4 linked regions of the Homo sapiens genome follow. The protein of the gene in region 4 purifies or fractionates together with the protein of the main gene of each other region. This does not show direct contact. Each region holds a gene or a part of one and is shown on either strand. Other genes may lie near its edges. The genes, in order: TTYH3, ARFGEF3, BZW2 and PACC1.

Evidence for each region.
Region 1: the proteins of PACC1 (region 4) and TTYH3 purify together in Homo sapiens (co-immunoprecipitation; 3 studies listed by BioGRID and IntAct, with this or other methods). This does not show direct contact.
Region 2: the proteins of PACC1 (region 4) and ARFGEF3 purify together in Homo sapiens (co-immunoprecipitation; 3 studies listed by BioGRID and IntAct, with this or other methods). This does not show direct contact.
Region 3: the proteins of PACC1 (region 4) and BZW2 purify together in Homo sapiens (co-immunoprecipitation; 3 studies listed by BioGRID and IntAct, with this or other methods). This does not show direct contact.

What each region holds. Positions count from the first base shown.
Region 1 is NC_000007.14:2,627,318-2,635,046, reverse strand, and holds the start of TTYH3 (protein tweety homolog 3), read right to left. Parts: upstream 3,062-7,729; 5' UTR 2,892-3,061; coding exon 2,769-2,891; intron 1-2,768. UniProt on the Homo sapiens protein: Calcium-independent, swelling-dependent volume-regulated anion channel (VRAC-swell) which plays a pivotal role in the process of regulatory volume decrease (RVD) in the brain through the efflux of anions like chloride and organic osmolytes like glutamate.
Region 2 is NC_000006.12:138,157,804-138,165,303, reverse strand, and holds the start of ARFGEF3 (brefeldin A-inhibited guanine nucleotide-exchange protein 3), read right to left. Parts: upstream 3,366-7,500; 5' UTR 3,218-3,365; coding exon 3,133-3,217; intron 1-3,132. UniProt on the Homo sapiens protein: Participates in the regulation of systemic glucose homeostasis, where it negatively regulates insulin granule biogenesis in pancreatic islet beta cells. Also regulates glucagon granule production in pancreatic alpha cells.
Region 3 is NC_000007.14:16,642,128-16,649,412, forward strand, and holds the start of BZW2 (eIF5-mimic protein 1), read left to right. Parts: upstream 1-4,053; 5' UTR 4,054-4,161; exon of another isoform or gene 4,162-4,177; intron 4,178-7,285. Other genes in the region: ANKMY2 (ankyrin repeat and MYND domain-containing protein 2), read right to left, coding at 3,380-3,446. UniProt on the Homo sapiens protein: Translation initiation regulator which represses non-AUG initiated translation and repeat-associated non-AUG (RAN) initiated translation by acting as a competitive inhibitor of eukaryotic translation initiation factor 5 (EIF5) function.
Region 4 is NC_000001.11:212,383,512-212,390,938, forward strand, and holds part of PACC1 (proton-activated chloride channel), read right to left. Parts: intron 3,590-7,427; coding exon 3,380-3,589; intron 1,915-3,379; coding exon 1,763-1,914; intron 1-1,762. UniProt on the Homo sapiens protein: Chloride channel gated by pH that facilitates the entry of chloride ions into cells upon exposure to extracellular acidic pH. Involved in acidosis-induced cell death by mediating chloride influx and subsequent cell swelling.

The sequences.
Region 1 (7,729 bases), on a different chromosome or scaffold from region 4:
AGTCACTGGCTGGGGAGCTGCACAGAGCCGACCCCAGATGCCCCTCCACCCCCTGCCCTCTCACAGCTCCCTCAGCCCCCATCAGCTTCTAATCCCACGGTCACACCCCCAGCGGCAAGGCAGCCGTGGGGGAATCCGGGGAGCCTGCGACTCCAGGCTGACCCCGGCTCCTCGGGGGGCCGGACGAGGGACCTACAGCAGGGCTGCGGCCCCACCACTTACTCACTATGTGATTCGGAGCCTCAGTTTGCTAATCTGTACAATGGACAACTCTCCCCACCTCCTGGGGCTGTGGGAAAAGTGACTAGTGACAGGCAGTCCCACGCAGGGCCTTGAAACAGGACCTGGCCCTGGTCCCTCCGGGGGTTTCACCAGGGTTCCCAACAGCAGACCACGGGGGCCAGAAATAGCAAAGGACAAAGGCCAGTCCCCCGTGCCACACCCCCAACTCCCAACCCCAGGCCCCACCTCCCCTCCATCCCCCCGCCCCCATAACCACGGGGCAGATGCCCACTCCCCAGCAGGGCACAGCCCAGGTTGGGGCAGCACAGAGACAGCTAAGAGGGAGCCCTCAGTCAGGATGGGTGAGGGGTCCACCCCCCACTACAGCCAGCAACTCCTCACCAGGGGAGGCAGGAAGGGGCGCCTGCCACAGCCCAGGCCCACCCACTGCCCATTCTCCCAGGAAGGGGGCTCCTGGCCCTTGCCTCCCAGGGGTGACCCTACACAGGAGGCACGGCCAGCCCAGATTCAGGATGAGGCAATGAAGGCTCAGAGACACCAAGCAGTTGCCGAAAAGCACCAGTATTGGAAGGGCAGGGGCAGGACGCACGCCAGGACCAGCTCACGCCACAGCCCCTCGCCAAGAGCCGGGAGTGGAGGCGGCGGGGGATGGAGGCAGGCCGGTTTCCACATCGTGAATTATTCAGTGGCTAATTCTGCTCTGTGGAGATGAGGCAGGAGAGAGAGTGAGTCAGAGCCCTCCCACAGCAGAGCAGAGCGCAGGGCAGGGGAGGAAAGGGGGCAGAAGCCAGGGCCTCCCAGGGCCATAGCACCCTGCTGGAGGCCAGGCAGGTCAGGCTGAGCAGAGGGGCCTGGCTACTGCCCGGAGGCTCTTGTGGGCTGCAGACATCATCGCCCCTCACTCCCTCTCACTGCCTGTCTCGAATGTGGGAATGCAGGCACCCCGGAGGGCTGGAAGGAAGTCCAACTGTGGCTGGCAGCTCGGGCAGGTGGCAGCCCAAGGGGCAGCAGGAAACAGCCGCCCCCCACGCCCCAGGGCTGCCCCGGAGCTTAAGAACTGACAAATGGGCCAAACCCTCAGGGCAGAGAACTTTCCAAAGTGAAGCACACCCTCCTTGCAGCTTCAACAGAGTCCTCCAGGGACAAGTGGCAAAGCCATCAGCATGGAATAAGTTCCAGAAGTTCCTGAATGTGCATTGCCCCCACACTGAACGGTCCCCCAGGGCTGGGCTTCTAGAACGCAGGCGTGAGATTTTATACCAATCCTTCCGCCTCCCTCCTCCCTGCTGTGTCTGGGCGTGCCTGGGCCGATCCCTCGCCCCCTTCCTCATCTGTTAGGAAACGTCATCGGCTCGGCTGGGGGGCCTGGGTGCAAGTGAGCGCGAGGCTGGGAGCAGTGGGCTCCCAGGTGCCCTGCTCCTCCACTTCCGCCTCCCTCCTCTGGATGCGGGAGGCCACAGACAACGCAGTTCTGAAGAGTCCAGGTGCTAGGCTGCCCGCGGAATACCGGATTCCCAAGCCATTTTGATAAGCAAAGCCATCCCCACCCCACCATGGGGCTCTGCCATGATCCGTCCAGAGAGAAACTCCGGGTGACCAGGGACCCTGGTCACGGGGCTTCTGGAATCCGGATCTCTAGGCAGGAAGGAAATGCCCACAGCTTGGTCCCCTGCCCCGCACTCAAATGACAGTAGCTTGGCGATGGGGGTGGTGCTGGGGCCTGGCATGATGCCAGGCTAAGGGCTCCCCTGGGAGAGGGCTGCAAAGGGCCCCCAGCCGCCCCCCAGGTCTGCCTGGGCTCAGCCGCTTCCAGCCTCCCTGCCTGAGGCCCACGGTGCTTCCTGGCCGCCGGGCCTCCCTCCCCCGGGGGCTACAGGCAGCCTGGTCTCCCACGGCCACACACGGCACCCTGTGTACATCCCACAGCCTGACCGCCAAGCAGGGGGTCATTACCGGCCACAGAGGGCTGGCGGCGGCCCAGGCCATTCACCCACTGGAAGCCTGGCAGTGGGATTCCCCAGTCGGGGGTGAGTGGGCGAGGAGTCTCTGCCTGCCTGCACCCAATGTGCTCAGGCACCCGCTCTGATCTCAGAGCCTGGGGGTCATCTGGGGAGGGGTCTCTGCTGGGACACAGCACCAGGCCGCCAACAGTGATGGTGGAGAGGCCCTCCACTGGCCAAGGGGGCTCACGGAGTGGGGAGAGGCAGCTCCATGAAACCCAGGGGCCTTAGTGACACCAGAAGGGAAGGCCAGAATCGGGAGGGGGGCCGTGGACCCTCACTGGGGGTTGGAGGGTATTTAGACCTTTGAGGAGGAGGCCATGACCCTGGAAGAAAGGGTCCTAGGACTCAGAAGGGACCCTCGAGAAGGAAGGAGGCCGGTACCTGCGAGGAGGAGGTGGCCGTGACCCTGGAGGGGGGGATGAGGGGTCTTTAGGCCCTCGGGGATGGGGGCCGTGACCCTGGGAGAGGAGGGGGCCGTGACCTGGGGTCCCTGACCCCGCGACCCCGAGAGGCCCATGTCACCTGCTGGTAGTCGGTGTCCTCGGGCCGGAACTGGCTGCTAGTGGCCTCCCAGCTCAGGTCGAAGTGGGGCAGCCGGTGCAGGAGGCTCACCCACCAGGGCGCCGCGTAGCTGACCCCGGCCATGGCGGGGCCCGGCCGCCTCCGGATGCGCGCGGCCTGCGCGGGGCTCCCTTGCTGGCCCGGGGCGCGGGCTTCAGGGACCCGTCGACCCCCGCCTGGCCGCCCGCATCATCCGCGCGCTCCTGGGCCCGGCCCGGCCCGGCTCGGCCCGGCTCGGCTGCGCTCGGCTCCGCTCGGCCGCCCGCGCCCGCCGCCTCTTTGTTCGCCGCCGCCGCCGCCGCCCCCTCCGCACCCCCGCCCGTCCGCCCGCCGGCCCCGCCCCCGAGCCTCCATTGGCCCGCCTCCCGCCAGCCCAGCCCCCGCGCGCCCCGCCCTCTGTCCCGCCTCTTACCCACCATTGGTCTATCCCCCGCCGATCCCGCCCCACAGCGTGCCCCGCCCACTCGCTCCTGAACCTCTATTGGTCCTTTTACCTGATGGTTTTGCCCCTCCACTCGCATCCCCGCCCATTACCCAATGGCCCCGCCCCTCCACGTGTCCCCGCCCTTCGGCCCCGCCTCTGTACCGTCATTAGTCCGCCGGCAGAAGCTCCGCCTACTTCCTCGCCTTCTTGGAGGGACGCCTGGCCCCTAAGGCGCTGGAAGACCGACCCTCAGCGCTGTAAGACCCGGGCCAGCCAGTCTTTCCACGTGGCCGTGGGGGCTGGAACCCTGGCTGCATATGCAGCTGCGCTTCATTCCATGAATTCGCTCTTCGTTTGGATCTTTGCATGTTTCTTATTTGACTCGAGGGTCCGGCCTGGTGGGCTGGGCTGGTCTTGGCCTCCCCATTGCACACACAACAGCCCACAGCCCGCAGCGCCCAGCAAGGCACCGAGTGGCCTATCTGTACAATGGACATGATCTGGATTCAGGGCCTGGCTGGGGCACCTAGAGCTGTGTGATCTGGGGCAAGTTACTTAACCACTCTGTGCATCGGTGTCCTTGTCTGTAAAAGGGGATGATAAAGCTACGAGTGTTGGCAGGGCGTGGTGGTGGTTCATGCCTGTAATCCCAGCACTTTGGGAGGCCGAGGCAGGCGGATCACCTGAGGTCAGGAGTTCGAGACCAGCCTGGCCAAAATGGTGAAACCCCGTCTCTACTAAAAATACAAAAATTAGCCAGGCGTGGTGGCGGGCGCCTGTAATCCCAGTTACTCTGGAAGCTGAGGGAGGAGAATTGCTTGGACCTGCGAGATGGAGGTTGCGGTGAGTGGAGATTGCGCCACTGCACTCCAACCTGGGCAACAGAGTGAGACTCCATCTCAAAAATAAAAAAAATTTTTTTTAAAAAGGTACGAGTGTTAAGTGGATCCGCAGGTAGATTCAGTCCCCATCCGGCCTTCCCTCTGGGGAAGGTTGAGTCTTTTGTCAAGACCTAAGATGAAGACGGTGCCCTGTTCTGGTGTCCTGGGGCCTAAAAATTCAGGCACCTGCCAGAGAGGGCCCATCATGGGCTTTGGAGCCACACAGCCAAATTTCCTAACAGGGCCTCCCCATGCCTGTGCCTCCTCCTTTGCTAAAGGGGAGATGGGAGCTGCCAGAGCCAGGAGGATGGACATAGTGCGTGCTTGGGCCCAGGTGCACGCCTCCCTCCGCACTCTAGGGCAGTGGGTGCATCCTGGCTCTGCTTCATCACCTGGGGCCTTATTCCTGGACCTCCTGTGTACTGAGAAACAGGTTTCCACACCCGGGCTCCACCATCTGCTGTGCCCGACTTGGCCAGCTCTGTGGGCAGGCAGGCCGTTCCTGGCAGGAAGAGCTCTTTGCAGGCAGGGACGGTTCCGGGCAGTGTCTTCCCAGGAGGCCTGGACTTTGGCTCATTGACTGCCCTGACTCGCCTGTTTTCCTGTGATAGGGCACCGGGCAAGAGGGACTAGCTGAGCTGCGGTTTCCACCCGCTGGATAACTTGGAGACACCACCCAGCTGGGAAATAACAGCCAGGCAGAAGGGGGGAGGTCGCATTCTCCATCCCTAAAGGCCGAAGAGCCAGAAATTTGGGGTGGGGTGGGGATACTGGCTCAGGTTCCTCTCTCTCCAATGCCAAGGATGGTGGGAGCTCCAGGCAGAATGAAGCCCCCCCCAACCCCCTAAGACCAAGGCTACCTACTTGGAGTGGGCTGGTACCTGGCCAGGTGAGTCCTCTTCTTTGGCGCCAGCTGATTGCTCACTGTGAACAGGTGGCTTAGGCAGGACGCCCACTCCTAGCCTGACACTGCTCCAGCATCCAGCCTGTGACCTCATCTCCACAGCCAGGGGATCGCCTGCACGGCCCGTGCCCTGGGCTGACTCTGACCTCAGAGTTCTGTGTCGCATAACTCCAGGGATGAACAGGGCAGTCCCTGGCCAGCTGCAGAAATTGTCCTCATGGCCTGAGATCGTTTCTGGTTCCTGCTGTTAGCAGCAGCTCCCATGGCCACAAACAGACCTCCTGCTTCCCCCCACCACAACTCCAGTGCCCTCCACACCAGCCTGGCAGCCCTGCCAGGGTACACACATGCAGGCAGGGGGTACAGGAGTTCCTTCCCCTGTTTCCAGAAGCCTGGCAAAATTGTACCTTTCCTTTTGATAAAGCCAGAAAGTCTGATGCAGACATGATGTGAGATGATAACTTAGGGTCAGGCACAGTGGCTCACGCCTGTAATCCCCACACTTTGGGAGACCGAGGCAGGGGAGATCGCCTGAGGTCAGGAGTTCGAGACCAGCCTGGGCAAATGGTGAAACCCCGTCTCTACAAAAAAATACAAAAATTAGCCAGGCATGGTGGCACATGCCTGTAATCCCAGCTACTCGGGAGGCTGAGGCAGGAGAATCGCTTGAACCCGGGAGGTGGAGGGTGCAGTGAGCCGAGATTGCGCCATTGCACTCCAGCCTGGGTGACAGAGCGAACTCCATCTCAAAAAAAAAAAAAAAAAGAAAGAAAGAAATGATAACTCAGGTGTAGTGGATTGAATTATGTTCCCCAAAAAGATATGTTCAAGTCCTAACTCCTGGCACCTGTGAACGTCACCTTCTTTGAAGAAAGGGGCCGGGAGCAGTGGCTCATACCTGAAATCCGAGCACTTTGGGAGGCCAAGGCAGGAGGACCGCTTGAGGCCATGAGTTTGAGACCAGCCTGGACAACATAGTGAGACCCTTCTCTACAAAAAAATTTAATCAGCTGGGTGTGGTGGCTTGTGCCACCACAGTAGTTCCAGCTACTTGGGAGGCTAAGGCGGGAGGATCACTTGATCCTAGGAGATCTAGGCTGCAGTGAGCTATGATCGTGCCACCGCACTCCAGCCTGGGTGACAGGCTCATGCCTGTAATCCCAACACTTTAGGAGGCTGAGGCGGGCGGATCACCTGAGGTTGGGAGTTCCAGACCACTTTGACCAACATGGAGAAACCCTGTCTCTACTAAGATTACAAAATTAGCTGGGCGTGGTGCCATGCACCTGTAATCCTAGCTACTCAGGAGGCTGAGGCAGGAGAACAGCTTAAACCCGGGGGGACGGAGGTTGCAGTGAGCCGAGATCACGCCATTGCACCCCAGCCTGGGCAACAAGAGTGAAACTCCATTTCAAAAAAATAATAAATAAATGAGAGTCTTTGCAAATGTAATCCAGTGAAGATGAGGTCATACTGGGTTAAAGTGTTCTCTAATGCAAAGATGGTGTCCTTATAAGAAAAGATAAATTTGGACACAGACTCAGAGATACAGAGACACAGAGGGAAGCACCCGTGTGAACACGGAGGCAGAATCTCAGGGATGCCGCCACAGCCCTGAACGCCGAGGGGCCACCAGAAGCTGGCAGAGAAGCCTGGGGCGCTCCCTCCCTCAGAGCGCCCCGCCTCAATCTCAGCCTTCTGGCCTCCAGAACCGTGAGACAATGCATGTCTGTGTTTGAAGCCACTCAGTTTGTGGAGCTTTGTCACGGCAAATCCAGAAACAAACACACCGGCTTTCTCAGAGCTTCCTGGTGGCCAGCGCCCTGTGCCTCTGATGGTATGGGATGAAAAGGTACTGATGACTGAGTAATATTTGCAGTGTGTTTGGGCCATGAAATCTATTCCTAAGGGGCCTGTGGAGGAAGAATTTGGTAAAAGGGATCCAGGGTGGAGAGAATAAGGGGCCCACAGTGAAGGTTCTGGAAGAACACAGCCAGAGTCCCTACCTCACCCCCGTGCAATGCTGCTTGGGATCCGGGTGTTGAAGAGAAACTCCGTGGGTCCCTCCCTCCAGCTGCCAGGAAGGGTAAAGGAGAGAAGGCCAGAGAGAGGATCTAGTGTGGGCCAGGGCATGGAGGAAGCTCCGCCCACCATCCCACCTGCTTTGACCCGACAGTCACTGCCCAGAGCTGTGTGGTTCTTCCCATCTGTCCTGCAACCACTGTGGCTGGAGGCTGGACTTTAGTCCCACTCTACAGACGGAGCAACTGAGGCCCGGTCCCCGCCATTGCATGGGAGGCCTTGAGAATCACAAGCTGGTCAGGGAACCAGGGTTCAGCCTAGTTCCAGGGGCCCTTCCTCCCTCCCCACTTCTTCCCTCCCTCCCTCCTTCTGTCCTCCCTCCCTTCTCTCCTTCCCTCCTGCCTTCCCTCCCTTTCTCTCCTTTCTCCCTCCCCCCACCTTCCTTTCCTCTCTCCTTCCTCCTCCCTCCCTCGTTTCCTCCCTCCCTCTCTCCTTCCCTCCCTTCCACCTTCCTTCCCTCCATCTTTTCCTCCCTCCCTCCATCTTTTCCTCCCTCCCTCCTTCCTTCTTTCCCCTCTTTCCCTCCCTCCCTCCTTTCCTCCCTCCTTCCCTCCCTCCTTCCCTCTTTCCCTTTTTTCCTGCCTCCCTTCCTCTCTTTCCCTCCTTCCCTCCTTTCTCCCTCTCTCCCTCC
Region 2 (7,500 bases), on a different chromosome or scaffold from region 4:
ATGAGGGTCTAAATCAAGGATGATCTCTCTCCCATGAGGGTCTCAGAGGGGGATATCCCCTCTCTCCCATGAGGGTCTAAGTGGGGGATGACCCCTGTCTCGCACAATGGTCTCAGAGGGGGATGCCCTCTCTCTCTCATGAGGGTCTCAGACGGGGATGCCCCCTCTCTCTCATGAGGGTCTCAGAGGGGGATGACCTCTCTCTCCTAGGAGGGTCTCAGTGGGGGATGCTTCCTCTCTCCCATGAGGGTCTAAGTGAGGATGACCCCTCTCTCCCATGATGGTCTAAGTAGGGGATGGCCCCTTGCTCCTATGAGGGTCTAAGTGGGGGATGACCCCTCTCTCATGAGGGTCTACGTGAGAGGTAACCCCCCTTTCCCATGATGACCTAAGTAGCGGTTGACCTCCCCATCACATGATGGTCTAAGTGGGGGATGAGACGTGTTTTCCTGAGATGGTCTAAGTTTATTGTTGCCTCTTTTCATGAGATGGTCTAAATGTGTTGATTCATGAGCCCAAAACTGTGGAGACCCACGCAGAGCATGTCAGTCAACCCACAAAGAGCAGGACAAGATCCCTGAAACAGTGTCTAATTCCTAAATCACAGCTATTCTTGTAAGGGGTATTTTAGTTAAAGGAGTAAATAAATCCCGTTTTGTATAGCTCAGCTTAAACTAGCTTTTTTGTCTCTTGCACCCAACATATTTGTCAATTACACTGCCCGTAAGAGCCTACCTGTGCACACAATCAACTATTATCCAAAATAGTAGGTACTCTAAGAGAGTCATCAAGGCAAGGATCTGAACCCAGACAAACAACTTATCCTATTGAGGAGCTCAGGGAATGTTTCCTAAACAAGATGGACCTTGCCAAGTCTGAAAAGGGAATTCCCTACAGAAGGACTAGCAAGAGCAAAGGCAAAGAGAGAAGTGTGCCACACAGCATGTTCAACAAAGTGCTGCAGCTGACTGCCACTAGATTGTTGAATCTTGGTTGGGGAGTGACAAGAACAGAGGCTGGGGCTAGATTCTGAAGAGCATTCTGAGGAATTTACACATTAATCTAGAAATAAATTGGGGGGTTGAAGAGTGACAGGTGTTTTGTAATCTAAACAGTGACGGGCAGTGGAAATGGACTGGAGTGGGAAAGGCAACAGGAAAACCTATCCCTATAGGCCTTTGTTCATGTCTCCAGCATGCCCTTCTAACAAATTCCTTACAGGGAACATTTTATTCATCCATATATCCCATTGCTCATTACCAGGGAGGTCTTAATAAATGTTTCCTAAATAAAGAAGCGACGGAAAGAAGGAACCCATAGCTTCCCCATTCTTCAAGTGAAATCTACTTCAAAAGCCCCACCAGCTCACACCAATTCTCCCCCAATCCATGGACAACACATTTATCCTCCCTTCTTTGACTTGTTTTCCTGGTTTGCCCAATCCAACTGCACAATGAATGCCCTGCACTATTATTTAACTATTTCATGCACTTCTGTCTTGTCTTGCTAATGACAGAACAATCACTGGGAAAGGAAGTACATCCACTCAGGCTGGTTTCTTTCAGATTTGACTCGAAAAATTTACCTGCCTCAATGCTCAGCCTCCCCAGTGGCTTTAAAGGACCTAAACTCAGCAACGTTGTGGTTTCACTTAATAAGATGTTGATGTCAGTATTTAAACTTATTAAAATACTAGATTAATCTCCTCCTCCCTGTTTATCTAAATCTGCTTAATTTGCAGCAAAATAATAACGAATACTAGGAATGGCATGTTTAAAGCACAATTGGGCCCTGCTTTATCATGTTACCCAGCCATCTGTGACCCTTCATTAGAGGCATTTTGGAATCTAGCTTCGAATCACGCTGCTGAATGACAATGGCAACGGCAAAAATAGTACTGTGGCTTTAAGAGCCTTGCTGTTCTCTCAGATTTCTGGTCCATTTTTCTTTAACAGTAAGCTAGAATGGTCAAGTGCTGGTTCTACCTACAAGACAAACTTCCTAGACAATATTCTAGACAATTTTGTGATGATAGGCACAGGTTTAAAAAAAGATGCTGCTATAATTACCTGTACACACACCCAAACATATGTGAATTAAGACCATCTACATATTAAGAGTCACCTAAACCACTCTCAAAATTTTACATTTAGTGGAAAACCTGCTAAAGGCTCTTCTCTATCTCAGGCTGCATCAAAGCACACACAGTGTCATGACAGACAGTGATGGTTCTTGGTTGCAAGGGAAAGGGAGTCAATTTCATTTTTCAATTGAGTGGCAACTGAGGCATCACATCAGGCTCCAGCAAGGCAGAGAGAGGAGCCCATAGAGCTAGCTGCGCTGGCTTCTTCTTGGCCTTTCCTTTCTAAAAAGCATCACCATCACCCAAAGTATGCTTCTGATCTATTTGCATTACCATCCTGACCATTTTGATTGCCCAAACCCCGCCTAACTGAAATGTCTTTCCGTTTTTTTCCGCTGCTGAGTTCTGCAACCTGAGTCTGATGAGAAACACAAATTTGCTCCCTGGAACTTACTTCAACGCTAGCACAGCTCACAGCCCTAAAATCCCACCTGTCTGAAGGGCAGACCACAACAGAATTGCAGAGGTAACATGATCCCCGCCCGTATGTTATTTTTCATGTGCAATAACCAGGAAAGCTAACACTAAGCAAGCTGACCTCTATCAGGAAAATCAAATTAAACAAGCCTTTCCTTCCTGGTTCCACTCGCCAAGGATTCGACATCGGGGTTGTTGGTTTAACTTCCCTTTTCCCCAGAGGCGCTTCGCTGTCAGGCCCCAGGATTCGCACCGGCTCCGGGTCCTGCCTAACTCGGCGATGGGGAAGCATCGTCCCCAGCGCCGGGACCAGGAGAAGGGGGCCGCCAGGCAGGGAGGACAGCGGTTCCCGAGGAAGGTTTCGGAGAGTGAAAGAGACCGGAGGGGAGGCGGCTGATGTCCACGCCCGAGCCAAGACTCTCAAATCCCACATCAATTTCCCGAGGCGACTCTCGCAATCGCCAGAACGGCACCCATGACCGACGCTCCGCGAAAGCCCCACGCGCGGAGGCGCGGGTTCAGCCCCGGCCGCGCGGCCCTCCCGCCGCGGCGAGCAGGTGCCGGACGCTTACCCAGGGCCCAGGTGCAGCTCTCCTTGATGGCTTTGTACTTGCTCCCGGACGCCTCCTTCTGCAGCTTCCTCAGGATTTCTTCCATCTTGACCTTCCAGGCGCCGGGCCGCCGCCCACAGGGAGAGAAGCGCGGGCGAGCCGGGCCGGGGAAGCCGCCGCTGCCTGGCCCTGGGCGCCTAGGCGGCCGCCGCGCGCGCCCCCATGCCGCCCCGGCGCGGATGCTGATGAATCACGCCCGCTCCATGCCGCGGGCCACGTCAGCCCCGCGCCCCGCCCGCCGCCCCGCCCCGCCCGCCTGGGTCAGGTGCGCTCCGCTCGGCGGCGGCTGCGGGCTGGGGCCGGAGAGTGAGGCTGGAGGCCGCTGACCTGACCGCCGAGGCAGGCCCCGCGGGCGCCGCGCTTAGCGGAAAGGTGGGGACGGATGTCCGGAGCTGGCTCGCCAGCCGCCGGGAGGGAGCGCCTGGTCCGCGGCGGGCGGCGGGAGGCAGGCGGGGAGGGGCCTCGCCGCGGTCTTCGCACCCCCTGAGCCGACGGTGGCCGCGGGCGGAGTCGGAGCGGCCCAGCCCGGACACCGGGACCCCCAGCGTGGTGCAGGCGCCGCGCCCGCTGCATCCCGTCGTCTGCTAACCGGAAAATTCTTGCGTTCAGTCACTAACAGCTTTTTTGGGCCACTCCCTGTGCCAGGCTCGGGCGATGCAGCGTTGCACACACTGTGCCCCTGCCTGCAGGGAAACTCCAGTCAAGCTTTCAACACGCGGCGGGCGGTGGGCTGCGGTGGGGCTGGGGTAGAGCTTGATATGCCCAAGGAAACCAGGCCCAGAGAGGCTGGGTTACTTCCCAGACCAACAAGAGTTAGACTCCAAACACGTCCTGAATCCAAAGCCCCTTCTAAAAACCCCTATCTCCTCCCCTTCCCATCCTCTCTTGCGCTGAATTGCTGCCCTGTGAAAAATGTGGTGCACAAGGGCCGCCGCAGCAGAGGGCTTCTCATTGGGGTGAAAAGGGGGAGCCCCAGGAGACTCACGCGGGCGGTGGGGAAGGCAGTGTGACAGGGCACCCCGTGTTTCCTTTTTCTTTGAAAATGTTCCTGTGGTGGAAGTGAGGATGATGGACTGCAGAGGGGCAGACTGGCAGCTGGGAGAACAAAGGTTCTGCAGGAATCTAGAAACCAATTAGGCCAAGGGTGGGTAGAAGGGGAATAAAGGAAAGTATGTCAAGAGATATTGAAGGGTAGAAACAATAGGATTTAATGACACAATAGGGGAGAGACGGTGTATATGGGATGGCTTCCAGGTTACTTGTTTAGGAAATTGGGAGGATGGTGGCCCCATTCTTTAAAGAAGAGAAGATAAAAAGGGTTTGGATTAGGGGGGATATATGAGTTCAGTTTTGAACATGTTCAGATTGAAATGATAATGAGATACTTGTAGATTTTTTTTATGGACAGGAACTCAGGATAGAGCTCTGGGAGGGATGCCAGTATTTGAAGGGTGGTAAATATAGGAGTTGTTGATGCCTCGAGTTTGACAAAGGTTGCACAAGAGAGGGAGTGACGGCCCCCCTAATTCTCAAATCATGGGTACAGGAGCAAGGGCCCAGGGAGGAGGCTGAGAGGAGCAGTCCGAAATCCGAGGTGTAGGGGGTCAGCCAGGGGAGGGACTGCCATTGGAGGGTGTCCAACACATGGGGATGTCAGACTACTCCTTCGGCGCTCTTGGTACTGAGGAGGCAAAACCTACAAAGTCCCAGCCCCCAAGGATGCTTCTACCGCTACCCTCACGCCCAGTGAAGCCATCATTTAAAGAAAGGTTTAAAAAAAAAAAAGTAAAAACGCCGCAGCAGATAATGTACTTGGGTTAAAGAAAATTGTTAACTATTTGGAAAAATATATAGATCACAACTTTATATCGTGTAGCAAAATAAATTACAAATGTATTAAAAATTAAATTTAAGAATTAAATGATGAAAAGTTTAGAAGAAAGCATAAGTGAATATACTTATCTTAATGCATTAAGATTATTTCTAACAAACTAAGGCAGAAACTGAAGGAAAAAAGGTCAATAGATTTGACTATTTGAATATTTAAGACCTTTATGCCAAAAGTTTCATACAAAATTAAAAAGCAAATGATACTCTGAGGGATGGATTGAAGGAAGAAAAGATGATACCTCTAAATCTTAATTATATGTGGATTTATATTTTTGAATCTATTTTAAAGTATTTACTAGTTTTACAATTAAAAACAATTTCGTTTAAGCTGCAAACTAGGAAAATGTTTATATTAATGTCAGACATATAAAGTTTGAATAGCTTTGTTAAAAAAAAAAAGCTTTAACAAAGAATTAAAAAACAAATGCTCCTTCTTTTTTAAAAAAGCCAATATATATAAAGTCAGTTTACAGAGGAGAGAATACATATGACCCCATAAACTTATAAAAAATGTTCAAGTGCCTAATAAAGAGAACAAACTTTTAAATAAGATGCTATTTTCTATTAATCAAATTGACTGAGAGATTTTTTAAATGTTATTGAAGGAGCTGAACAACAAGGTCCTCTCATGTCTTGGGTGCTGGTCAGAGTGTAACTTGGTACTACATTCCTGGAGGGAGGGAGCCTGGATGTGTATGTGGCATAGGTATAGCTTTGACCTAACAATTCCACTTCTGGGAATTCATCCTAAGAAAGTGATTATGGAAATGGATAAGGATCTTTCTACAAGCATTTCAGTGTGTCTTTCAATTCTAAAAAAAGAGAAAACTAAATATGCAACAAGGATATGGATAGATAACCCATGATATATTCATAAAGCATCATATTATATAGCCTTTGAGAATAATGTGGGGGACTAGGCATGTTGGCTCATGCCTGTAATCCCAGCACTTTCGGAGGCTGAGGCAGGCAGATTGGTTCAGCCGAGGAGTTTGAGAGCAGCCTGGGCAACATGGCAAGACCTCATCTCTACTAAAAAAAAAAATTGTTTTTAATTTAAAAAGAATAATGTGGGAGAGAAATATTGAATAATATGAAAAGTGGTGTCGGGGGCAGTGGCTCACACCTGTAATCCCAGCACTTTGAGATGCCAAGGCAGGTGGATCGCCTGAGGTCAGGAGTTGGAGACCAGCCTGGCCAACATGGTGAGAACCCCCCTGCCTCTACTAAAAATACAAAAATTAGCCGGGTGTGGTGGCACATGCCTGTAATCCCAGCTACTCAAGAGGCTGAGGCACAAGAAGTGCTTGAACCCTGAGGCAGAGGTTGCAGTGAGCTGAGATCTCGCCACTGCGCTCCAGCCTGGGCGACAGAGCAAGACACTGTCTCAAAAAAAAAAAAAAAAAAAAAAAAAAAAAAAAAAAGACAGAGAAAGAAAAAAAAAAAGAAAAGTGGCTTATACTATATACTTAAGTAAGCAAATTGTAAAATGCTATGTACTTTTGTATACTACATGATTCCAATTTTATTTAAATATTTGATGTAGATGTATATATAAGTTCAAAAATACATGCATATATGTACATACATATCTATCAAAAGTACATACAAAATATTAAGTGATTATCTTTGATGGGCTTATAGGTGAGTTTATTTTTCATTAAATATTTTTACTTTTATAATCAGAAGTGTTATTCTAAAAAAAAAAGTGGCACAAAAATGAAATAAAAGTAGTATCCAGGCAACAAGGTCAACATCCAGAGAAAGGACAAAGATAAACACAGAAAATGATGTAATGAATGTGAGAGAGTTAGGATCCCGTGGAAGCCAGACCCGGGAGAAATGATGACTGCAGCCTGGTTGCAGTGGATTAAGAGCTGGTGAAATCACACGGATAAACAACCCAGTGGATGGCTATGAAGGAAAGTAAACACCTTTCTACTTTTTTTCTATAACTCACAGTAGAAAATATGCTTTACATTATCATCCAGTGTTTACATACATGTATAGATATGTTAAAAAACTGAAACAACAGTTTTAGGTATAAAACAGTACATACTGTTAACTAGAATAGTTACTACTAAGCATGATTTCATTCACTGCAGCAGGCATACTTGCCTGTTCCTAAATTCATTCTGGGTTGCGGGCATGAGGACAATCACAGTGGTTTGCTCTGTGATGCCTATTTCTTTCCAATGTTTTTAGTTTTGTTGCTTAAAAATTCTGGCTCACACAAATAAGTTGCTGTGAATGCTATTAATAACAACAGTGAACTCTGTTTAGCAATGGAAAGTCTTCTTTAATCTTAATCTAAAATGGCTATAAACTTATAATCATTCTTCAATGTATTAAAGTATTAGAGATTAGCTTTCTTCTTTGAGTATCAACTTTAATATGGATTCAGGATTTTGGAAAACAGATCTTTTATCAATTTTTTCC
Region 3 (7,285 bases), on a different chromosome or scaffold from region 4:
AAAAAGGAAGTATAATACTTTCTTGTTAGCAACAGTAAGCCCAGGAATTTCAGGTACTAAATAAGAGAAGTAATGTGAAAATTATCTAGCTCATAGCCTTAAAAAAGGTTTAATTTATTTCATAATAGTGCTTGCTCTGAGATTAATGAAAAAGGTATCAAAGCTTAGAAGAATGGGTAACTCTACAAGTCATATAAGCCAGTTAAACACAGTTCAGTGATTTCAATTTCCTCTTACATACTGTTAAATGAATGCTGTCATTAACTATGATTTAAATGGGTATGTTGGAAACAGATTTTCATTTTCATCTGGAACTTCTTGGCATTCTAATAAATAAAAAGCCCCACTTAGAGTCTGTCTTTCTGGAGAGCAGTGGCTGGCAGATGGGAATCACTTAAATATTTGCCGAGTTTATTTCAGATTGACCAAGATGCCAGGCTAGACTTTGCTGAAAAGTTGTTAGTTCAAAGTACTAGAACTTATTGTCTCATCTAGAGTTTTTCAAAGTTGAAAAACGTATGAAAGAAAAAAAAAAAAACTCACTTCACCCACTTTAAAAAAAATGCCTCTTTTTGGCACAAATATAAACTTTGCTTATGGCCTTTCTTCAACTATAAAATAAAAATTTACTTTAAATTTAATGCACACAGAACTACAAAATCAGTAACATTTAAAACTGAGTTAACTTGACAGATGTTGTTTTGCTAGAACTAAATGACCTCTCAAAGTGAATATTGTATGGACTGCTATGGTACTGTTTCATGTTTTGTTTAGTTTGTTTTTAGGTACAGCCTGTTTATTACCTATGGGCCCTGTGATACCTCTGCTCTGCCACTTTCTGCCACTTACCTGTTTGACACTAAGTTTCCTAACTTCCCAGTTCCTCAGTTGCCTTGCCTATAAAGTGAAGATTACTATATTTATCACAAACACAAGCAGTATTTCGAATGCTTTAACTATACTAACTACTTTCATCCCCATAACAACGTTGTGAGGTGGGTATTATTATTATTCCTATTTTTCACACAGAGGACTTGAGGCTCAGGAAAAGTCACTTGCCCAAAGGCCACATCACCAGTAAATGAGTTAGAATTTCAAACCAGACCTGCATGGTTAACCACTATCCCATGCTGTCTCTCATACTGTCATAGCTTAAAATTAATTCCTAGCTCATCCAAATTAAATGCATTAATATATGTAAAGTACTTAAAATTATGTGTGGCTTGCAATAACAGTCAATAAACGTTGGCTATGGTTGTTTTTCTCATATCTCCCATTACTTTTCTTTATGAGTGCAAGTGATGTCCCACAGACCTTCATTTGACAAGAATGCATCACATACTAGGTCCACATCAGTTCTTTTCTCATTGGCATGGTCCAATGAAAGCGATGAAAGCATCAGTGCACTCATGCAACTTGATGCACCGTGTGAGCCCAGAAATATCACAGCACTAACCAGAATAAATGCACATTAATTCAGGTTTATATAATCTTCAAAATAAATACTGATGGACACCTGAGAATGTATCCAAGGAATCCCTTCTCCCCTCTCAAAGACTCAATTTATAAAACTGCTCACTATTTTTCACTTTTAAGAGATCACATGATGGGCCAGGCCCAGTGGCTCATGCCTGTAATCCCAGCACTTAGGGAGGCCGAGGCAGGAGGATCACTTGAGCCCAGGAGTTCGAGAGCAGCCTGGGCAACATAGGGAGACCCCCACCACCCCATCTCTACAAAAAAAAAAAAAAAATCTTTCTAAAGTAGCCGGGCATGGTGGCTCGCACCTGTAGTCCCAGCCACTAGGGAGGTGGAGGCTGCAGAGAGCTGCAACTCCAGCCTGGGTGAAGAGTGAGATCCTGTCTCAAACAAACGAGAGAGAGAGAGAAAGAGACAGCGAGAGCGAGAGAGAGAGAGGACATGTACTAGCTCTGTCCTGCCTAAAAGAATTTTTGTCCCTGGTGGATTGTGAATTGATCCTTTGTCTCCTTTTTGCCCAGCACAGTACCTGGCACACAGCTAGAACTTGCATGTTTGCTTAATTGAATCCCAGAGCCATCAAAGGCAGGGAGAAATTACCTAGAGACAGGAAGAACTGAAAGACTGAAATGCCAAATAGGTCAGCAAGAACCATGCAGTACAACAATCTAAACTCTAACCCAAATCCCCAAATTCCAGGCAAAGAACACATCATTGATAGATATAGCTGTGACTGACTTAGAATAGTTGAGATCAGATCGGGTGGGCTCAGCTCATCAGCACCTGTTGAGTTCAAACCGGAATTTTTTCTCCTTCGCATGTGGAGTTTCCTTGTCGCTATGAAGAATAAATCTGCCTTATTCTCTAGGATTCCACATTTCAGCCTGGCTACTAAGTAAATAAAACTGGAAACTGGGAAGCCTTATGCTGCAATGACTGGCATCTCTGCCATTCGAGGACAAACATGGCTATATTATTATTGAGTTTAAAATCACCACATTAATTGCCCGGAGTCGCACGCATCACCATCCCTGCACCGTGAGGGTGCAGAAGAAGCATGCAGTCACGCTGATGTCACCTGCCAGGTAACGGGACTCGGCAGGGAACTCCTCTGGGACGTCCACTCGGGGACTCCGGGGAAATATGGCTTCTGGCTCGTCCTCGGGGCTCCCCGCTGGGACTCAGCACTGCGGAAGTGGGGCACGCCTTGGGGGAGTGGACAAGAAAGCGCGAAGGAGCGCGATTAGAAGGTCTCATCTGTGCAACGTGGGCCGAGGGGTGGGTGTGGAGGCCTCGCCAATTTCCTTGTCTCTCTAGGGTTCCTGAGGCTGTCGGGGCTTCTGGAAGCCAGGGAGGCCCTGGATACGGAAGTCTCAATGCAGCAAATTACAGACCTAGTTCTGTACCCTTATGAAGAACCCCTCTCCCTAAGGGCGCCCTCCACTCCCAAGCGGGGGCGGGGATCGGCAAAGGATCCAGATCATTCGGCCTGCGGAAGTCTAAAGGGTCATTTAGACACCCGCCTAAGAACCTGAAACTACCAGGACTGACCGCGGTCAAAATCCCTCGGGAGCAGTGAAGAATTCACACACTGGGGTCCACACCCCGGGAAGCTCGCATTAACCTAAGGCGGGGCGTGGAAATCCGTACGTTTCCAAAAGCGGATTTAGAGGCCGAGCCTCTGTAACTACCCCTCTTGTCCCAGCACTGCTTCTGCCTCCCCACCTCTCCGCCCCTGCAACCTTTCCCAGACCAAAGGGAGAAACGCTCTTTCCCGGTTCCAGGCTGCAAACCTTGCAGAACCGCAGCCAAAGGTCACCCAGGCCAGGAGCGCCCCCCGGGCTCCGCCACGCCCCCCGGCCAGGCTGGCCGCGGCCGCGTCGCAGCCCAGCACCCGTACCTTTCCCGATGACTTCCAGTAGCTCCTTCTCCTCCTGGGTCAGCTCGCCTTTCTTTATGTGAACCATTGCTCCCGCCAGCTTGAAGGTTATTCCCTTTCTTAGGGAGTATTAAAAAAGAAACGATGCGTCTGTATTGGGAACGCCAGCCGCAATGAGGCAACTTGAGACCAAGACACTGAGTAGCCAACCGCGGAAACGCTTCGCTTCTCTCCTCCCTCCCGCGGGCTGGCGGACAGCGGGCGAGCTCGGGCGAGCCAGGCGGACGGTCTCCGCAGGCCCTGCGGCGGTCACCGCCTGCCGCCTGTCATTGGCCCTGCCGAGGAGGAGGAGCCGCAGGAGGCGGTAGCGAGAGATCGCCATTGGAGCAACCTGGGAGGACAAAACCAAATGCAGAAAGCTGGAGGGGGGAATTAAATTCCTCCTACACGTTCCGCTCCCCTATCCTGTCCGGTTCAAATATTTCGCCACATGTAATATTGAAAATTCTACAGCTGGCAGTTATGTGCTCAGCGACGGCTTTCTGGGGCATGCAGAGGCCCCAGGTTGTCGCCGTACCCCCACCATTCCCCCGGGAGTGGCGCAGTCTGGGCGGGGGCGGTCTAGGAGACGGGGGCGGTACGGGAGGCGGGGCTGCGCCGGGTTCCGTGTGTCTATGTCAATGTGTCTGTCCTTCACTCCTCCATTGTCTGCCGCCACTGCTGCTGCTGCTGCTGCTGCCGCTGCTGCTGCACGAATCGCCGCAGCCCCCAGCCTTGCGCGTCGTCGCTACCTCCTCGGACAGGTGAGAAGCAGCCCAGGTGAGGCAAGGGGCGCCGTGAGGGTTGCGAGAGTAGCGACTGCCGCCCCGCCGGGGTTTCCATCGGGCAGGAGCTGGCGGGGAGGAAGCATGTGCCTCCTGGGGCGGCTTCCTGCCTCGCGGTGGAGAAGCCCCCGCTCCACCTCATCATCACGGCGCGTACGGGGTATCAGTGCCCTGGGATGAAGACCTCCGACTCGCAACGTTTGGCCGCCTCGGGAGACCCTGGGACCGCGGGCGGGCGGGCGGGGGCCAGCCACGCGGTGGGAAGTGGCGGGTGCACATGGTCTCGTGCGTGGCACCGCCAGATGCGGCTCCCGGGGAGGCTGGGGCCGGGGCTCTGGGCTAGGTAGGGGTCGCAAGGACAGCGCCCCATTACTAGCGAGTCAGTGAGAACAGACTCGGGAGAAGGTAGTTTTTACGCTGGTGATCCTCGCCCTCCCCACTACTTGTCATCTCTTTGGCCTCTGTGGAAGCTGTAGAAGAAAACCTGATCGCCCAATGTTGCTTGTTAAAGATGTTTGGAAACAATTTACACTTGCACTAATACTTCGTTTATGAGAGACAGCCTGTGGGAGGGGGAAGGAAGGGCTTCTTTGCTCTGCTAGAGTTCTCGGTTCTCTTTGTAACTCAGATCTTGAGATTTATGGAAATAGGGAGTGGAGGGTGGGGAGGTTGGAGAGGGCGGAGATTAAATTGGTGTTGCTGCCTATATATAGCCTTAGATTAGCCTCTTAATCCAACCTTCATTCAACTGTAATATGTAGCCTGGAGCTTCGACCATAGGTAGATGGGGGTAAATACAAGTGTGTATTTCAGAATAAGATTTGCTTGCTAAAATGCGGGAATCAGTCATTTCTCCAGGGTGCAGATTTATATTTACATCATCAATGAAAGTTTCTTTGGAAATTAGTGTTTATGTTTTACTGTTGTTTCCCTACAGAGTAGTATTGATGTTTCTCTCAATATGTGTGTCAAAGAGACGTGTATGTGTCAAAGAGAAATATTTGAGTAATTATGTAGGTGGTTTTTGTTAAGCATCCCCAGGACCACTGTTTCTTCTCATAGCGCCATACGAAAAGCGAAATGCATTTTCCTCTGGCCTTAGGCATTTATTTTGCGTGAAGCTTTCACTAACATCTGAAATCTCCTGGAATATGTTTATCATTATTTCCTGCCTTTAGCAAAAATCTTTCCTAAACTCCAGCTGTTTTTCCCCCCTAAAGCTTCAGCATTAAAGACTGGGACAGATCTGAGCCAGAACATCTTACATGAAAATGGTTTGAAATTATTCATCTCAGTGTATAACAAAGATACTTTTGTTGGATGATGCTTTAATAATGATGTGGCTGTTCAAGCAAGTAGTAAGGCTCCTGAGAGTGACCAATCTTTTGTAATGCTGTTAGTTCAGAGTTACAATTGATTTATAACATAGTATCATGCGGAAGAAACCCACAAACCTAAAAAAACAGTTGAGTGGTAACCTCCTGGAACATGTGATTTAGCATCTTACCAGCAGATGCATACACATAATTGGGTACTTCATTGCTAGTATTTCCATCTCTTGTGCCAAATCTGGGCCATGGTTACTTGAAGGTCACACCTGTTTGTCTCACTGGGGTTGTCAGTTCCTCGAGGATAGCAGCTTACTATCTATTTTCTTGATGCCTTATGACACTTGGTTGGTATTTAGTGCTCTCTGAATACATGACCAGTGAATTTAGAGACAATAACGTTGAAAGAGAATCTAACATCTACCTAGAAATGCAAATAAATCATGTTCAGTTTACATTTCTAGAAACAGATTCATAATGGGTACTGTTCATTAGATGGATTGATTACATTAGTAGTTTTGTATGGTGTAAATATTTAATGTAGGGATAAGATTAGATAATGAGCATATTAAAACAGATTCACATCAAAGAAGTTTTATTGATAATAAGATAGCTACTTCATATTGAGTATTTAGTCTGTGCTAGATATTCTACCAGATGCTTTGCATAGAATTATTCTAGTGTTATGACAACCCAGGAATGAGCCAATATTATACCCACTTTGCAAATAAGAGGACAGAAAGTAAGGGAAATAATTTGCCCACAATCCCATATTAGGAAGTGTCAAGTCAGAATTGGAATAATGATTTCTGAAATGTTTGAAATGTTGTATGTGTCCTCTCATATCTACCACTCTAGAGCTATTGCAATGCATCTTAAGTAGCCTGCTTCTCTCTCACCTGTCTCCATCTAGCTAATTCAGGGAACTACCAGTTCAATAAACATTGAGCACCCATCATTCTTTGAATGGCTCTCTGCTGGCCACAGAATAGAGGGCTGGGTCTGGCCTGGAAGGTTCCAATCCATCCATGGTCTCAGCAGGCATTTCCAGTCATCTGGGCCCTCCCACACACTGGGCTCTAAGGTCACCACTCTGCTTGTTCCCCAACCTGCCGGTAATTTCCACCCCTTTGTTCCTGCTTTTCTCCTCCTCTGAATGATTTCCCTTCCCTTTTCACTGAATCTCCTCTCCAGATCTGATGAACTATTCAACTTTCCAGACACAATTTAAACAAAACCTCTTTTCTTCAGCTTTTGTGTTCATCTCTCCCTCTCTATCCAGTAAGGGAAATATACATGCTAGTAAATACATTTATTCATGTCTCTTGGCAAGGGTTATAAGTAAAATCTTTGTACATGGAGGATATTGATATGCAACATGGCTACTGGTATCATTGCTGGCAGCCTTTAATTCTCTCTTCTTATGGATTCTAGCGACCCCTCTTTTACCGCCCCCCTAAATTGACATCATTGCTTCTTCATCTGAATCTCCATGAAAATACCTAAAACAAGCACTTTCTCATCGCATTCTATTATAGTTATTATTAATCTGTTTGGTCCCTTCTCATTCTACAGTATACATTAACTAGGTCAAATTTATCTTTGTTTCTCAGGTTTAACCCAGTGTCTTGCACCTAGTGTATGCTCAGTACAAGCTGAGTTGAATTCAGTTTGATTTCTAAGTTATTTTAGGTGGATTTGTTTTCCTACTTGACTAATCCTTCCTGGCAATGTGAGGTGAGGTGGCACTAAGCACGCACAATCATAACCAGAGG
Region 4 (7,427 bases):
TTTTTGTTTTAATTAGCTTCTACTTCCCTATTCTAGAGTCCATTCTATTTGTTCATCTTGGTCCTTTTCTGTCATTGGTTTCATGCAAATGTCTGGTGACCATTAATTCTCCATTCTTATTTATGAATGAAGGATTAGGTTGACTAGTATAGGTCTGGGTTTTGGTTTCTTCCAAAGTAGTAAATTTCTGTTTCTCTAATAGGCCTCTCCCTTGCATGGGAAAGCTAAGTATGCTCTGTGGAAGCACACTGAGTTTTCCAGTGTGTTTTACTCTGGGAAGAGTCCTTTCCTTTAGTTCTCTCTCCTTTTCCATTGTAGAAGTCTGCTCTGTTTCCTATGCCTACACAAAGAATCATCTTCCCTTCGCTTCTGTAGAGAATGGTTCCAGGGTCTTTTACCCAGAGGCAACCATCCCCAGCGGCTCTGCATACCTGGGGAGGGTATAGGGTGTGTCTGGCCCAGCCAACAGGCAGTCCAGTAATGACTACCCTGCTCTCTAACGGTGCTGATTCCAAGCTGGGGGTTTGGAAGGAAAGCTTGTACCTCTACAACAGGTCTCTCCTTCATCTGTTTTGGGTTAGGGATTTGCTCTAATTTGTTTGCTCCACCAATCTGGCCCAAGCTGTTTTTTATGCTTTATACCAGTTCCTCAAAATGTCTGGTCCACTGGTGATATCCTTTCTTCACGTGCAAAGCTATTATTGATGTTCTAGTCTGTTCTATCTCATTCCTTAGAGAATCATTTTAGCAGGATTTTAGGAGGGGGCCTAGCGTTCACATACTAACAAAAAAAAAATTAGTGTTATTCTTTCATCTTAAAACCCACTAACAGTTCCCTGTTACCCAAGGGAGCAAGTGTGGCTCTACAGCACGATGCATGTTCTTTTCTCATCTGGCCATTACTCTGTCCACAGCTTCATCACCCATCAGTCTTCCAGGGCTCCTGACCCTATGAAACATTTCCCCACCAACTGCAATTGTGCCCAGAGGCACAAGTACAACATGTCGTCTCTTCCCTTTAGGTCATGGTGCAATTTCCTCTGCCTAGAAAACCTTTCCTTCCCAATTTCATCTGGAAAACTATTGTAGCCCCTTTCAATGCTTTCTGAAGCAAGAATATGAAATGAAAAAGATGAGATGTAAATCAATACAAAACGCCTACCCTGTCTTTGAAACCCTGTGCAGTGCCACTCCTCCAGGGCGCTCCTAACCCCATCCCTCAGTCATCCTTCCCAGCCGTGCTGTGTTGTGCACGACAGCATGGCCAGCCCAGGGCCCAGGAGTCCTTGTCCCCAGACCGACGCTCCTTTACGCTGGCGTATTAATTTCAAACTATGGATTCTCAGGCCCCACCTAAGGAATTATAATTCAGTTGGCTTCACATGGAACCTAGAAATTCATATTTTCAAAAAGTATCCTGGCAATTCTGTCAAGTGGTCAGGTATGGGACCCACTTCGCTATATCGCACCAGCCCCACCCTTTAGCCCTGCCATTCTTCCATTGGGGACAGGGTCTCACCGCACTGTCAGGAATCCCTGAGCATTACTCAGCAAAGGCTGGAGGCCTCACTGTCCTCCCTGAATGCAAGTGAGCCAACCACAGCCAAGTGTCCACATGGCACAGCCGCATGTCTCCTTGGGGACTAAGGCCCCACACTGAGTGAGTGGAAGAAGGACTCCTAGGAAAAAGGAAACTTGGGGCCTTGGGTTGCGGGGCTAACAGAGCAGCTGCCCAGACCCAGCTCAGGCAGACAGGAATTACCACAGTCTGATTGGAGAAGGGGTCCGTGTAGTTGATCCTCTGGGTGGTGCAATTCATGTCACCCGGCTGGCCAGGGCTTGTCAGAGGAGGAATGACCTCGTAATGGTGCTTACAGCTGAGCAACTGGGCCTGACCGGGGTACAAGGCAATACCTGGGGGCACAAACAGGAAAAGCAAGTGTCAGAAATCACACTCCTGACCACATCCCTGAAATCATCTCACACCTACCAACAACCTACGTTCTGGACTCCCTGGAGGACTGCAGGGAAGGGAGAAGAAAAGGGTTTCAGAGGGTGAGGAGCCACATCCCCTGGCCTCAGAAAGCCCCGCTGTAGCAGAGGGCACAAGCCCCTCCTCAGTAAGCCCCTGGCCAACCTGGGATCCAGCCGCCCTGATGCCCACATCAAAACCCACTCCACCTCAGAGCCCCGCTCCACACCCTCCGAAGGAGTGTCTCTTGACTCAGCCCCTGTGCCACCCCTCTGGGCCAACACCCACCTGCAGAATCACTGGGAGGCTCTAAACTGTGGAACTCCTCAGAACTCATTTTGTCTCTTAGACTGGGAGCCCCAAGTGTGCAAGTCACATCCCAAGAGTCCCTCCCTCTTCCCAGCCCAGGCACCTCTACTGACAGTAGCTGTCCAGCCTCAAGGGCAGCAATGCTAAGACAGCAGCACATGGCATCAGAGACAGACAGACTTCAGAGACACTAAGACACCAGACAGAGAAAGTAAAACGTACAGATAAAGAAGACTCAAGCAGACACACAGAGAAGAGGGACAAACACAAGACAGGAAGAGATGGGCAGAGGAGCCATGACCAGCACACCTGACTCTGCTGGAGGCTGGCAGGAAGCCCCAGAGAGAGGGCACCCGGACTCTGGCTCTGCCATGTGAGCAGGCCCTCCCACAGGTTACTCAGGGGCATCTGTGGGCAGAACAGGTGGCACACACTGGGTGGACAGGGCCCAAGTCACACAGCTCATGCCTCCTCATTTACTCTACAGCCCCTAGAACATCCAGTGCCAGCCCTGCAGCCCAGAGCAGATAGCTTGCTCTATAGCAGAGTGGACTCCCCACTCAGGGACCAGACACCCCAGTGAGACAGGTATACCCAGTGTGGCCTGGGAGTCCCTCTCCAGGCAGGGTTGAATGGCCTCGCCTCCCCTGCCATCCTCCCCACCCCACAGTCCAGCCTTGACTCCTGCTTCTCCTCATCCCTGCCCTCTGGCCCCAGCCAAGTTAGTCTCATCCTCTCCAGAGAAGCCCTCTGCCTCCCTAGACACCCCTTCGCTCTGCTGATCCCCATCCCAAAGACACTCTCTTCCCATCTATGTGCTTTTCGAGGCCCATCTCAAATCCTACCTCTCTGCCAAGCTTTCCCTGACCCCTCTAGTAGCCTGCAGTAGCTGCTCCAGGCTCTGTCCATTTCTGTCCTCAGCACGTAACACACTCCCAACAGCAGCTCCTTGGGCATAGACTCTATACCTAGACTATGCTTGGTTGGACTCCTCTGCCCTGCCCGTAGTACCACAAATACAACGGCAGCTCAGGGAGTATCTGCCAGCTGACACCCTAGATCTGGGGCCCTGATGCCTGGCCCAGGGGCAGGCTCTACCTGGGGCATCATAGCGATCCACTTCCTTGTAAGACACAGACATGACAGGGTGCTTGAGTTTCTCACGAAAGTCTGTGATGGTCCGGTAGACCAGGAAGACGGCCACAGCCATGAGCAGCAGGTAGATGAAGATGAGTAGGACCGAGAAGACGTTCTTCAGGCAGGCCTTGCTGAAGCGGATGCTGCTGGAGGCGGACTCGCTGTCCAGGCCTGACAACAACAAAACACCATGTGACCCAGGGCACAGGGACAAGGTACAGACAGAGATGGCCAGCAACCTCCAGGCCCTTGCCTGCCTCACCAAGGAGGTGAAGTCACCTGCACGCCCAACCTTTCCACCTCACCCCACAAATCATAACAAAGGGCACCTGTAAACATTTACTACACAGCTTCTCTGCCAGGTAGAGGACACCAAGCTGAAGGAGACTTATTCATTGTCTTTAAGGAGTTTACTCTCAAAAGAAAAAAGATAAAAGATAAAAAACGATAAAAATGTTAAAAGAAAAAGCAAAAAACAAACAAAAAGAACAGAAAAAAGGAGTTTACTCTCTAGAGGGATAGGCAGTTACAATCCAACAAGTGAGCTGGCCCCAACCTACCTCTCTGGCCTTATCCCTCACTGCTCCACTTCCCCAGTTCTCCCAGCTCTAGCTCCACCTCTACTCATCGACTTTCTGTTCTTCTGGAGTGCCCTTCTCAACCCGGGATTCCCTCACACTTACCATTCCCTCTGCTTGATTTTCTTTTCTTCCACAGCTGATGCTTCACTCATCCTAAGCCCCGAAAGCTTTTTGCTTGGCATCTGGCTTCCAACAGTGACAGAGTAGCTTGGTCACGCCATCCTTCCATGGAAGCATTTTAATTTAGAAAGACATTTTCTTGGCCAGGCGCAGTGGCTCAAGCCTGTAATCCCAGCACTTTGGGAGGCCGAGGCAGGAGGATCACCTGAGGTCGGGAGTTCGAGACCAGCCTGACCAACATGGTGAAACCCCTGTCTCTACTAAAAATACAAAATTAGCTGGGCGTGGTGGCGCATGCCTGTAATCCCAGCTACTCAAGAGGCTGAGGCAGGAGAATTGCTTGAACCCAGGAGGCGGAGGTTGCAGTGAGCCGAGATTACTCCATTGCACTCCAGCCTGGGCAACAAGAGCGAAACTCCATCTCAAAAAAAAAAAAAAAAGAAAAAAGAAAGAAAGACATTTTCTTGAGGAAGCCTCTCCTGACCCCTAACCTTTATTTGGGCACCTCTTCCTCAGTGTTCCCAGGGAGCCCTGTACGTCCCCTACTTCATCACTCTGCAATGTCATGTCTATACATCTTTTATCCTCCTAGGCTGTGAGTTCCATGAGGGCAGGGATGGGGCCAGTCTTATCCCTAACTGAATCCTTAGCCCTTCATGCTATGCCTGGAACATTCTGCATTTACATGGTGACTGATTGAACACGTCCTGATGCTATTGGTACAACACAACTCTGTCTCCCCTACCTCCCTCACAAAATCCTGAGGCTAGAAGCTAGATTAATCTCTGTTATGGACGAAACTGTATCCCCCACCCTCAAATTCAGGTTGAAGCCCTAACCCTCAATGTGAGTATATTTAGAGACAGGGACTTCAAGGATATAATTAAGGTTAAATGTGGCCATAAGGATGAGGCCTGATCCAATAGGACCAGAATCCTTATAAGAGGAGGAGACACTAGGAGCACATGCACACAGGAAAAAAGGCCATGTGAGGACACAATGAGAAGGCAGCCATCTGCAAGCCAAGGAGAAAGGCCTCACCAGAATTCAATCCTGCTGGCACCTTGATATTGGATTCTCGCTTCCAGAACTGTGAGAAATAAATTTCTGTTGTTTATGCCACTCAACTGTGGCATTTTGTTACAGCAGTCTGAGCTGACTAAGATACTCCCACAGGGCTCCCTGTGCCCTCTCTGCTCCTCAGCTGAAAATGGAGCTCCCTGAGAAGAAGTCCTATTTCCTCCACAGCCCAGCTGAGCACAAGGCTGAGAACAAGGGAAGCATCTGAACGTAAGCCCCAAAAGGTATCTGCTTGGCATCTGGCTTCCAACAGTGACAGAGTAGCAGTGTCACATCACCCTTCCACAGAAAACAATTATAAACTTTGGACAACATATTTTAAATTATTTGAAGGCACTGGGAGAATGATCAAAAGCAGGTAGAAATTGAAAGAGAGGCTACCCTTGAAAGAGAAGAACTGTACTTGGTGAGATTTATACATCTGTAGCTTTTTGCCTAAGAATACATGCCAATCCCTATAAGGCATGGTTCAGAGTGACAGGGACAAAGTTCAGGGCTGGAAGAGCAGCCAGAAAGTTAAGACAAAACCATGAAAGGGAGGGAGCCACACAGGGGGTGAAACTCCCAAATCTGCAACTAAATATATGTTCAGATCCTTGGCTGGAGAACCCAGGGGGGGCCAGCAAAAAGTAACAACTGGAAATTGAAAGAACTGCATGGAGATTTCAACTACGGCTAATGCAGGGGAGATAGGAGTTTAGAGCTTAAATCTTGCCATATTAACAATATGCCAAGAAAAAAAAATACCCTTCTGAAGATCATAACAGAATCCAGAATCTCTATATCATTCATAATGTCCAGTGTTCAATCAAAAATCACTAGACATGCTAAGAAACAAGAAAATGTGACCTGTACTCAAGAAAAAAGCAATCTATAGAAACCAACACCAAGATGACCCAGTGTTGCAATTTAGCAGAGAGAAAATTTACAGCACTTAAAGGAAAATATCTGAATAAGGAATAAAGACAAGATCAATAGAGAAACAGAAACTAATAACAATGGCCAAATATATAGAATTTCAGTTTTGCAGGATGAAAAAGCATTGTGGAGATGGATGGTGGTGATGGTTGCACAGCAATATGAAAGTGCTTAATATCACTGAACTCTACATTTTAATGAGTAAGATGATGAGTTTTACATTACGTGTATCTAACCACTGTAAAAATGTTTCATAAAATTTAAAAAAACAGATGGAAATTCCAGATCTGACAAGAAATAAATGAAATAAAAAGTTCACTGTATAGGCTTAATAGCAAAAGATGGCAGAGAAAGAGTTTGTGAACTCAAAGTTAAATCAACAGAAACTATCCAATTTGAAGAAAATATTGAAGGAAAAAAAAAACCAAATGGAGCCCGGAAAATTGTTACAGTATCTAGCAGTGTAGTGACATGTAACTGGAGACAGAAAATGGGTCACAAAAAATATCTGAGGCCGGGGGTGTGGTGGTTCACCCCTGTAATCCCAGCACTTTGGGAGGCTGAGGCAGGCGGATCACAAGGTCAAGAGATCGAAACCATCCTGGCCAATGTGGTGAAACCCCGTCTCTACTAAAAATACAAAAATGAGCTGGGCGTGGTGGTGCATGCCTATAATCCCAGCTACTCAGGAGGCTGAGGCAGGAGAATCGCTTGAACCCGGGAGGCGGAGGTTGCAGTGAGTTGAGATCACGCCATTGCACTCCAGCCTAGGAAACAAGAGCAAAACTCCATCTCAAAAAGAAAAAAAAAAAAAAAAAAGACTATTGATATTGGGTTCTAAGATGGCTGAATAGGAACAGCTCCAGTCTACAGCTCCCAGCGAGAGAGATGCAGAAGATGGGTGATTTCTGCATTTCCAACTGAGGTACTGGGTTCGTATCACTGGGGCTTGTCATACAGTGGGTGCAGGACAGTGGGTGCAGCGCACCGAGTGTGAGCTGAAGCAGGGTGAGGCATCGCCTCACCCGGGAAGCAGAAAGGGTCAGGGAATTCCCTTTCATAGCCAAGCAAAGCTGTGACAGATGGCACCTGGAAAATCGGGCCACTCCCACCCTAATACCGTGCTTTTCCAATGGTCTTAGCAAATGGCACACCAGGAGATTATATCCCGCGCCTGGCTCAGAGGGTCCCACACCCACGGAGCCTCGCTCATTGCTAGCACAGCAGTCTGAGATCCAACTGCAAGGCGGCAGTGAGGCTGGGGGAGGGGCACCTGCCATGGCTGAGGCTTGAGTAGGTAAACAAAGCGG